Regions from separate parts of the Homo sapiens genome. Here region 1 is linked to region 2. A link means that fine-mapping ties the variant in region 2 to the plasma level of a protein whose gene starts in the linked region. Region 2 holds a variant in brackets. A gene starts in the other region. All regions are shown on their forward strands.

Region 1 (5,374 bases), not on the chromosome of region 2:
TTCTTACTGTGACTTCGTATATACAACTCGACTAAAAGGCATGCCAAAAAAATTAAACAGCAACAAAATATTAGAAGCTGAAAAAGATAAAGCTACATAATAGCTGGATATTAAACATTACAATATCGCATTTAGGACGCAAACAGCGCTGCAGTGCAAATGGAACTTTAAAAAATCTGCCCGCCCACGTAGACAAAGCTACTTTACAAAAGCGCACGCGTCGATATCAATCGTACCCTACAACAGAGCATGGTTTAAAGTATCAGTGTACATTTTTTCCTAAACACAAGTTGCAAGTAAGTTATCTAAAATCGAACACCGCCACGAAAGAGACCTCCAGGGTGCAATAAATAGGTATATCTCGTTGAAGTGGAGAAATGGCATCATGACCCTTTGGGTTGATGCAGATTACAGTGCGGAGGCTGTTCTCGAGAGAGAAACTAGAACTCAGCGTAAAATGCTGTAGTAGGGGAAATCGACCAAAGACGAGATTTTGAAAGCCTTTTGAAAGTCGTTTTTCTAGCTAAAAAGAAAAAGTGACTTATTCAGGACTGACTCCCCCTGCCAGTCCCAGGAAACAGGAGCAGCCCGGCGCGCCCGGGAGCCCCGCAGCGCAGTGCGCACTGCGGCTCCAGAGCGAAGGGCTGGCGCCCGCCAGATTCTAAACGTGCTCGGCTGCCGCAGCCCGCCGGGGCCGCGCGCCGTGGTCCGCGCGACTCCGCGCTCCGGGTTTCCGCGGTCACCAGCACTGGCGGAAGAGCCCTGCCGAGAGGGGACAGCCGCGGGCGGTGTCCCGGGAGTCCCGAGAGCGCGCTCCCCCTTTGCGCAACCTTCCCGAGGCGTCCTGCCCGGGAAGCCAGTTCCTGGGTTCTGGGCTGGCTAGGTTGGCAGCGAATGAGGCTTAGGCATCACTGCCTGAGGCCCTCACTTAGCATGTCGACAGCCACAGACTTGTCTGGCGGAGTTTCTCCTGGTGCCCACTTAAGTAGTCTCAAGTTTGTTCAAAGCTGGACTCCTCGACTTGGAACCAGGAGCAGCTGGAGATTTGTCAATTTAGAGCTCATTTGCCACGGGAGACGCTCTTGGTGTCCCCAGCACCGAAGGGTAGGTCAACTCTACAGTTTTCCTGAACATGATAAGGTGTGTGAAGACGCTGTGCAAATTGTACAGCGCTCTGCTTAAGGAGAACCTCGATCTTCATCTCGCCCCCAGAACTTCCCTCCCTTGAAAATAAAACTCCCACCTGAATGTAAAGCCCAGGAGGGGGTTTTGTTAACCGCACTTATTCCCAAAGCATAAAGGAATGTCTAATAGTTTTGCAAATGCTTCCATGAATAATTGTTGAATGAGTTCATGTACAACATACACACTTGAGGAAAACTGGTCTGGTTGGGAACATCTGGGAATTCTCCTTGCTTTTCTGGTAGGGAAGCGACCGACCAAACATTTATTGGGCACTACTCCTTGCCAAGCCTTCTAGGCTTTGGCAGGCCAATGGGGAGCCGGGGGGAGGGCTGGCAAACCTGTTAGTTGTTCAAGGACACAAAGGGGGCTTTATAAGATGGCCTAATCAGAGCCCTTAAACGTGGGTTCGCAAAATGGTTCATTCCCGCCCTTTCACCCACCCCCTCCCACCCCAGACGCAAAGCATATGTTAAAAACACTTAAGTGCATACAGAAGGCGCTTGGCTCAGGGTACACAGGGCAAGAAGCCTCGGATCCCAGCTCCCTTTAACACACATTTTTTCAACGCCGTTCTGGACCGAGACTGTCCGGGGCACTGGGTGCTGCAGGACCCGGCTCCCAGTACTCCTAGCAGAAGACCCTCTGATGAAATGGCCCATGACAAAATGACCACCATAACCGTTCCTTCAGTAAGCCAGGTAGACGTGCTCACAGCTTGCTGGGAAGTCTTCTTTCGGAGATTTCTGCAGTTTTCTCCTTCACCTTACAGCCTAACAAAGGGTGGGCCGGGGGTCGGCTAGGACAGAAAGCAGCGGGAAAAGCGGCTCCACGTGTTCCATCTCTGGCCTCGGCCTTCAGCCCCCAGGTTCGGTAACCACTGGGCGTGGCGAGTCCGGGTAACCCGCAGTCCCTCGCGCCCGTCCAGGTGCGGGTTGCTCCGGTAGCCGGACTCCCTTTTCCTATATACTTTCCTTTTGAGCTTTTGCTAAAATCTGGAGACGTGGAATCCACCCGCGGAAACTCCGAGCCCCTCCGACTGAGCATGCGCCATCGCCAGGCGGCTTTTGGTCACAGGCTCCCGAGTTCTCCTAGCTGGGGCTGCGGAGCTGGGGGGAGGGAAGAGAGGAAAGGGGAGGGGGTGCCTGGAGAGGCGGAGGCTCGCGCGCCTGCGCATCCAGCTCCAGGGACCCTAGGTTTTCTATGGGATTCCCAATCTGCAGCAGAGATTTACCCGAGCGTGTTGCGGCAGCGGCTGGGCTTGCAAGGCGCGATCCAAGAGGGATTTAAGCAGCCCAGAGCTCCAGAGAAAAAGAGAGCGAGAGAGAACCACACACAGAGACGGCTTAAGCGTTTACCCGAATTAAATATATATTTTTAAAAAGAACTGTTGAGTTTTATCATTTTCGTTAAGTGACCGTGCGCAGCGCTGTAACTGTAAGTGGAAAATACAATCTTCGTTGCATTTCTGCATGTGTAGTGCAACCAACTGTCAGAGAAATGCTTTGGCTATTGTCACATACTTTGCTTTGCATAGATGCGTCTAAATGCATGGGGACAATTTCCTTGCTTAATGCTGGCGATCTGAATGTGCTCTTAGTCCATGGGGGATCTTTTGGAATATTGGGGGTGGGGGAAGGGGGAGTGTTTATATGCGGCGTGTTTGGGGGATTGTCTTAGACTAGATTTAAGACAGGTGAAACTGAGATGCTTTCTTAGTTTGTCTTAGACAGATTTAAGTAGCTAATTGACCGATTGTGAAGTTTTCCGGTTGCTGATAAAACTATTGAGCGGGTACAGTCGAGTAGCAACCTGTCATCCGTGGGATTGGTGCACCATTTTTCTCACTGTGGAAGGGCAGCAAAGGTGTTTGCTAAGTAAAACTGAGTGGATGAGATTGGTATGGAAATCATGGTTGATCTCTGAGCGGGATGTTAGTGTTTAAGATCCACGGAGTCAGGCGCAAAATGAGCACATTTCTCTCAGTATTCAGAAATGAGTAGATAATTTTTTTCGTCTTTGATTTTTGTCACAATGGTGAATGGGCAGAAAAGGGAAAGATGCTCTACTGCACTGTCGATTTTGAACGGAGTCACAGGCTCGGTCGCTGAATGGGGACTGTCAGACCCAAACTAGTTACCTGCCTTTGCATTCCGTGTTCGCCATCCGGAATCTGGGGTTAAAAAATGTAAATCAAGGTGTGTTACATTTGGTAGTATTTCTTTAAAGGATAAAAGGTCGTTTTGTGTTTTGAGTTAAAATGGGTTGTTCCTTGCCCAGAAACTGGAAGAAGGGTCTTTGCAAGGTCAAACCCCGGGTGGAAATCAGAATGATGAATACCCTCAGGGGTACAAGAATGTGTACGTGGAAGGAGCGAGGAGAGGCTGATGCTCCCTGCATGGTGGAAATGATGAGTGCTCCGCATTGCCTGATCAGTGCCCTGTGAGATGCCAGAGTGGGAATCCATTTTTCTAGAGTTGCCCTCCTGTCCGTATTTTGGAAACTAAAATAAAATAGAATTGTTGGTGGTTGTGGAGAACACTAAGTACATACTATTTGTGTATCACTTTCCAGTTGAAGGCAAGAAAAGCTGGGGAGTTTTATTTCTACATATTAATATTTATTTTAATTTCTAAAGGAATTTCAGGTTGAGACAAATTTAAAATGAAACTCTTGTGAAAACACATTTTACCCCCACTATCATTTAAACTGCCTACGTGTGTTTGTGTGTGTGTGGTGGGGGGGAGTAGGGGGTGATCCTACATCATTGAACAACTTACTTTTGAATGCACTCTCATTAAGCCTTGGGTATTTAATAACCCCAGAAAATGCTGCACTGAAGCAGGTTGGCAGAATGGGCATGAGGCAGAAAGATGAGAAAAAAGCATGGCTAGTGCGTGCTGGATTTCCACGAAATAAGCAAATCCAATTTTGGGGATGAAATGAAATAAATTTTCCCTCAAATCGGGTGTGGGGGCCATCAAATAGGGCTCTTTGGCCCTTTGATCAGTCCAACCATTTGGAACCCCTCAAAGGAATTTATAATTTATTTAAATGGATGAAATTTGTAATTGAAAATTCGAGAAGAACCTCTCATTGGAAATCCACAGTATAAATCATACTGCCTTGTCTATTCCTTCTTTCCTTACTCCAGGGCAGAAGGACTAATCATTTGTCATAATTGAGCCATACTCCCTGTCATCATTGAGCATTGGCATCAGTTCGATGAATGGTGCAGGTGTTGACACTGCATTGATAAAGAGGGGTGGTAGAGGAAAAAGGGGGGAATTAGGTATCAAAACTGATAAATGCTTGGTCTTGGAGTCCCTGGCTCATAGGTTGACAGAGAGGATCAAGTTAGGCAGAGACCCTGTAAGGTATCTAGTCCAAACCCCTTGCTTTGTAGATGAGGAAACTGAGGCCCAGAACCATGGATGTAGAGAAAAGTCAATTAACTTCTAGTCTATGGAATAAACAATTAAAAAGTAATGTTGAGTGGAAATGTTTCCTTCTCTCTTTCATTTTCAGCAGTCTCAGTGACATTGCTGCAGACTTCAAATAAATAACTGTCTGCTCTCCAGCACATCTTTTGAAATTGTCTCTAGGGGTCCCTTTTATACCACCTCATTTCTCTTCCTTGCCTCTCTTTGTCTTGTAAGGTCTCTTTCTCTCTCTTTTTTATTGCCCCTCACCTCTAATATCCCCACCTCTTTGGATGTTTAGTCTGGCTTTTCTGGCCTCCTCTGCATCTCAGACAATTTCTTTGGAATCCTTGGCGTTTGCCGGGAGCACTAGCGTATCAGAATCTGCAGTTCCTGTTTGAGAACTGCCCAGGGCCCATTTCCATCTTTCCCTGCTGTGTTCCCCAAAATCCTTCAGGGAATCCAGCCTTCAAAGACACTGCAGTTACATTCCCACTTTTCTCCCCATCTGTCCTCCTCCAAAACCACTGCAGCTGCAGAGATTAGGACTTCGTGGAGTGAGGAAGCTGCAGGGTTTCCAGAGTGGACTTTGCCAGCTCACCTCTGGCTCCTAGGAGGCAGAACCCAAATTAGAGATGCCTGTCTCCAGCCTTCCTGGAAATCCTCCAGATAAAGCCACCTGCGGAGAAGGGAAAGGGAAGGGACAGAAAGACCGAAGAAGGCTTGACTGGTTTAACCTGAAGTTGTGCTATAGAGGAGAGTAGTGCAGC
Region 2 (5,340 bases):
TGTTTGCAGATGACATATAAAATATCCTAAGAAATCTAAAACAGAGACAAAACCAAAAACTATTGGATCTAATGAGTTAAGCAAGGTTACAAGATACAAGATTAATATTCAAAAATCAAATATATTTCTCAGCCAGACGCAGTGGCTCATGCCTGTAATCCCAGGACTTTGGGAGGCCGAGGCGGGTGGATCACTTGAGGTCAGGAGTTCAAGACCAGCATAGCCAACATGGCGAGGCCCCATCTCTATAAAAAATTTAAAAATTAGCCGGGCATGGTGGCACGCAACTGTAATACCAGCTACTCGGGAGGCTGAGGCAGGATAATCTCTTGAACCTGGGAGGCAGAGGTTGCAGTGAGCTGAGATGGTGCCACTACACTCCAGCCTGGGTGACAGAGCAAGACTCTGTCACACACACACAAAAATATATACATATATAAACATATTTCTCTACTTGCAATGAACAATTTGCAGATGAAATTAAGAAAATTCCATTTAAAAGGCCGGGCACGGTGGCTTGCTCACACCTGTAATCCTAGCACTATGGGAGGCCGAGGCGGATGGATTGCCTGAGCTCAGGAGTTCGAGACCAGCCTGGGCAACATGGTGAAACCCCGTCTTTACTAAAATACAAAAAAACTTTGCTGGGTGTGGTGGCGTGTACCTGTAGTCCCAGCTACTTGGGAGGCTGAGGCAGGAGAATTGCTTGAACCCGGGAGGCGGAGGTTGCAGTGAGCCAAGATGGTGATGCTGCACTCCACCCTGGGTGACAAAGTGAGACTCCGTCTCAAAAAAAAAAAGAAAAGAAAAGAAAAAGAAGAAAATTCCATTTACAATAACATCAAAAGAATAAAATATTTGGGAATAAATTTAACCAAAGAAACATAAAACTTATACTCTGAAAACTACAAAGTATTGTTGAAAGAAATTAAAGATGACCTAATTCAATGGAAAGATACACTATGTTGACAAGTTAGAAGACTTAATATTGTTAAGATGGCAGTACTCCCCAAATTGATCTTCAGATTTAATGCAATCTGTATCAAATTCCAATTGGATTATTTGCAGAAATTGACACGCTGATCCTAAAATTCATATAAAAATGTAAGGGACACGGAATAACCAGAAGAACAAAGTTGGAGGACACATGTGTTCTTATTTCAAAGCTTACCTCAAGGCTTTGATTACTACAAAGCTATAGTAATCAACACTGTGTGGTACTGGCATAAGTATAGACATATAGATCAATAGAACTGAGAGTGCAAAAATAAACTCTCACATATACAGTCAATTGATTTCCTATAACGATTTCCTACAAGAATATTATTTGGCAATAAAAGGGGATATAGTATTGATACATGCTACAACGTGGATGAACCTTGAAAACGTTCAGTAAACCAGTCACAAAAGACCACATATAGTATGATTTCATTTTTATCAAATATGCAGAATAGGCAAATTCGGAGACAGAAAGTAGATTAGTGGTTGCCTGGGGCTGGAAGGGTTGGAGGGGAGATGGAGACTCCGTGAATGGGTATGAGGTTCCTTTTCGGAACAGTGAAATGTTCTAAATCGATGGTGGTGGTGATGGTTGCGTAACTCTGTGATGATACTAACAACAATGGAAAGTGAAAAGCTACTTTAAACAAGTGAATTACGTGCTATACAAATTATATCTCAATAAAGCTGCTATTTTTTAAATCCTGCTTTAATTCTCAAAGGACTTCTATAAATACAGATCAGTTATCATTTCCAAAGTGCTTTGGGATTTGTATCCAAAAGCGAAAGTATAACTCAGATTCCTTGGATGTTTTCTTTAAAGCCTCTCTGTGGTCTATCAGAGTTACCTGAATAAAGGGATCAGCCTGTAAGTGGAGCAAGTCAGTGTAGACGTTAGTGTACTCTATGGCCTCTTCCTACCACACCTGTATCTCCTGATCCCATGGATGGTGCTCCTTCTCCCACCCAGCGTCCCCTCAGAGGTCCCAACACTCATTCACCTTGAGGTGCGAGTGTATGATAACAACTTCGATGTTACTGTTGCCATTCTTAAAAGAGATCCAAACCTTCTCCTAAGGAGAGGAAGTCTTAAGGGTGAGATTCCAGGCTTGAGTAGCAACAGTGGGAGCCTGTGAGTCCTGTCCTCCAATAGCTGCCTCTTTCTGCCGCCCTCTTCCTTCCCCTCCCGCTAAACCCCAGGAAGAAAGACCATCTATGGAGGAGCTCGTTGTATTGATGACATTTTGGTGCAGATACCAAGAAAGCCCCCTGGAGAATTTTGGGCTTTCCTGAGCCCTGTTTGAGTGACCTTTGGGTGCCCTGCACTGCTGAGAAGCCTGGTTTTGAATCCTACTTGCATTTACCAGCTGCGTGAGCTGGGGAGGGAGATTCCGATGCTGCATCTGTAGAACAAGGATAATAGCTCTGTAGCAGCTACTATGGTTCCCTGGTCCTGTTCCCCTCAGCCCACCTCTGAGTTCACCGCAGCCACGGTAGGCAATTCCCAGACACTGCCAGCCTCCCACCTGAGACCCTGTGTCTCTCCTCTGCCAGGGGGCTCAGCTAGAGCCACGGATGCTCCCATGACCTGCTGGCAGCAGCTGTGGGACAATCGGAGGGGCATGCTCCACGTGTCCTCAGAGGGTGCCCAGTGTGACTGACCCTGACGGCCCAGGGCGACAGCTCAGGAACGCACCCTTTATTGCTTCTGTGCTGTCTCCGACTCACCTTCCCACCTGCTCTCGTGCGTCCCGGGATCATCCCAAACCTCTCTGCCTGCAGTCTTTATCTCAGCAGATGTCTGCTTTGGGGAAACCCCAAATAAGATAAATACTTGTCCCAAGGTGTGCAGTGGAAATTAAAGCAGCATAATTACATTGAACCTTGTAGAACGCTTATTCACAGCGGAGGCAGCAAAACAAACGGGAGGTTCGCCTTTTACCTTATTCACGTCAAAATTCTCCTGCACCGGAGGATTGGGGCACTTCCCAAGATGAAATGCTTGTCCCTCTGCCGCACCG[A/G]AGAGGCCAGCCAGTGCGGAAAGCAGCAGCAGCAGCATCACCATCTTGGGGCTGGGTGGCTGGAGAAGGGACCTGGAGCTGCGGGAACGCAAAGCAGCTGGGGTTGTCATTCTGAGCCTTCTAAGGCCACACAATCATGAAGTAAGAGTGCTGTGCCCATGGTCCCCTCTGTGGGCGGTCCCTCCTCTTCTCTCCCCAGCCCATGTGAACCCTCATCCTGCAGGGGAACACCTGCCTGTCCTTGTTGCTGTGAGGCCTTCCTCAGAGCCTCTGCACCTCCACGAGGGCGCTCTCTGCCTGGTATTCTGGTTTGTTGGATTGATTTTCACCCCTGTCCCACCTAATTATGCATCTCCCAGGATGGGCACTGTGTCTAGTTCTCCTCAGAATCACCCACGGACCTCAAAGTGTCGGCTCAGTAGATACTTGTCAAATGAACAGAAACAGCGTGGAGAGGGCTATGTAAAGTGGGGGATTAAAGCCTCCAAGTGAACCACGAAAGACACGAAACCAAACCAAATGTTGCCCAACACTTAGTGTCCTCTGAGATTCTTCAGGGAGATGCCTCTCTGACACCATCCCTCCCCCTGCCCTCGTCTTGCTGGCTGTTCTACCAGCCCAAGAGTGCGCTTGGAAACCTTAACAGGGAGCGGCCTGCTGGGGGCTCCAGGGTCACCCCAGCCAGGTTCAAATTGTGACTCTGCCCCATACTAAGTATAACTGTGTCCAATTTATGCCTTAGCTTCTTTGTCTAGTAAATGGGAATAATTATCATTCCTAGCTCATGAATTTTTGTGAGAATTAAATGAGATAATATACAGAGAGTACTTAGAGGAGTGTCTGATACAGAGTAAATGCTCAATAAATGCTAGTTATTGTTATTATCAAAAGCAGAAAGATGATGGTATTTCCCAGGTTTCTTCTTTCTTTTCTTTTCTTCTTTCTTTCTTCTTTTTTTTTTTTTGACATTCTGTTGAGGGTTTTTGTTTTGTTTTGTTTTGTTTTGAGATGGAGTCTCACTCTGTCACCCAGGCTGGAGTGCAGTGGCACAATCTCGGCTCACTGCAACCTCTGTCTCCCGGGTTCAAGTGATTCTCCTGCCTCAGACTCCTGAGTAGCTGGGATTACAGGTGTCCACCACAACTCCCGGCTAATTTTGGTATTTTTAGTAGAGACAGGGTTTCACCATGTTGGCCATGCTGGTCTCAAACTCCTGACCTCAGGGGATCCACCCGCCTTGGCCTCCCAAAGTGCTGGGATTACAGGCCTGAGCCACCGCACCCGGCCTGTTGAGGGTATTTTTCATAGATGAAGTTCATTAAATCAGAGAAGGACTGTCAGCTGATGTGTAACTGTGCAACAAGCATTTCAACCCCAAGAGTCCTTTGGCAGCAGAAGCTGGCTTTGAAGCGGGGCAGCAAGGCAGGGAGACAGAGGCTGCAGGACTGTGTGCAGGTTCTGGGCATTGGAAGCTCCCCTGTTTCCTTCACTGACTCGCTGTCAATTTGCTCCTTTCCTTGTGACTCCTTGCCTGTAGCTTGCACACGAGCTATTTCCAGCTCTCTGCATTTCTCCCTGTAATGATGATGACTGATGCAATGCAAGCAAAATGTTCTCAGATCTGAGCATTTCGAAGGATGTGTCATTACAGGAATAATTATAACTGCTTTATTGTGAGTCTCTAAACCTCTAAATACCCTTTAATAATCAATAGCTTTTTTTCCCCTGGAGGTTTTGTTGCCTGGTTTTCCAAAGAACAGTTATGTAAGGAGTGGCAGCTTGCCAGCTGGGGTTGCTGCAGGGGGAGATGGTTGCTGAGGCCCCTTTGAGCAAGTCTGCCACAGGGCCACTTTCCCTGGTCTCTGAGGTTCCGTTTCTCATCGGCTCCACCACTGTATAAACAAAACCTGTCTTTTAACCTTTTGGGGGATGATGAATTTATAGAAATGCAGCCTAAACCCACACAAATTTGCATCCATTTTAAAGAGATCTTGAATTCTACTTAGTAGGCCCAAGCTGAAAGCCTGGCCCAGAGGATCAAACCTCAAAGACTGGCCACACACTATGCACATTCCACAAGGTCCCCACACTGGATAGGACCTTAGAGGTCATCTTTCTAGCTCTACTTCCAAGGTGTACAGATGGGGAAGCTGGGGCCTGGAAGGGGCAGAGAGCTGGGACTCGAGCTCCATCTCCCCCTCTCCTGTCTGCAGCACCCCGAATCTGCTTCTTCTGTGCACCGCCATAGGGCCTTTCAATAACCCCCCACCTCTGTGACCTGATGAGTCTCACCACCACATGACACTGCAACAAAAGTCAG

Direction of the effects. Positions count from the first base shown, and alleles are read on the strand shown. Strength reflects both the effect of a copy and how common the allele is.
For the plasma level of the protein whose gene starts at base 2,397 in region 1, allele A in region 2 goes with a lower level than allele G (strong association).

Evidence for each region. PIP is the chance, under the fine-mapping model, that this variant and not a neighbour inherited with it causes the effect. Protein levels are from antibody-based Olink assays in UK Biobank. Linkage for the fine-mapping came from a reference panel and not from the study's own genotypes, which makes the PIPs less certain.
Region 1: VSNL1 starts here. The variant in region 2 is fine-mapped to the plasma level of the VSNL1 protein (UK Biobank, PIP above 0.99).

Annotation. Positions count from the first base shown.
Region 1 is chr2:17,538,300-17,543,673 of GRCh38, forward strand. It overlaps VSNL1 (visinin like 1), which reads left to right and starts at 2,397. Exons shown (of 4, transcript NM_003385.5): 1 at 2,397-2,619. RefSeq lists enhancers at 702-821, 5,123-5,374.
Region 2 is chr3:195,576,398-195,581,737 of GRCh38, forward strand. It overlaps APOD (apolipoprotein D), which reads right to left. Exons shown (of 5, transcript NM_001647.4): 2 at 2,942-3,098. The coding sequence starts at 3,064. Among named protein-coding and RNA genes, the nearest start is that of APOD, 4.9 kb to the right of the region's middle. The variant A/G (reference allele first, on the strand shown) is at 3,021.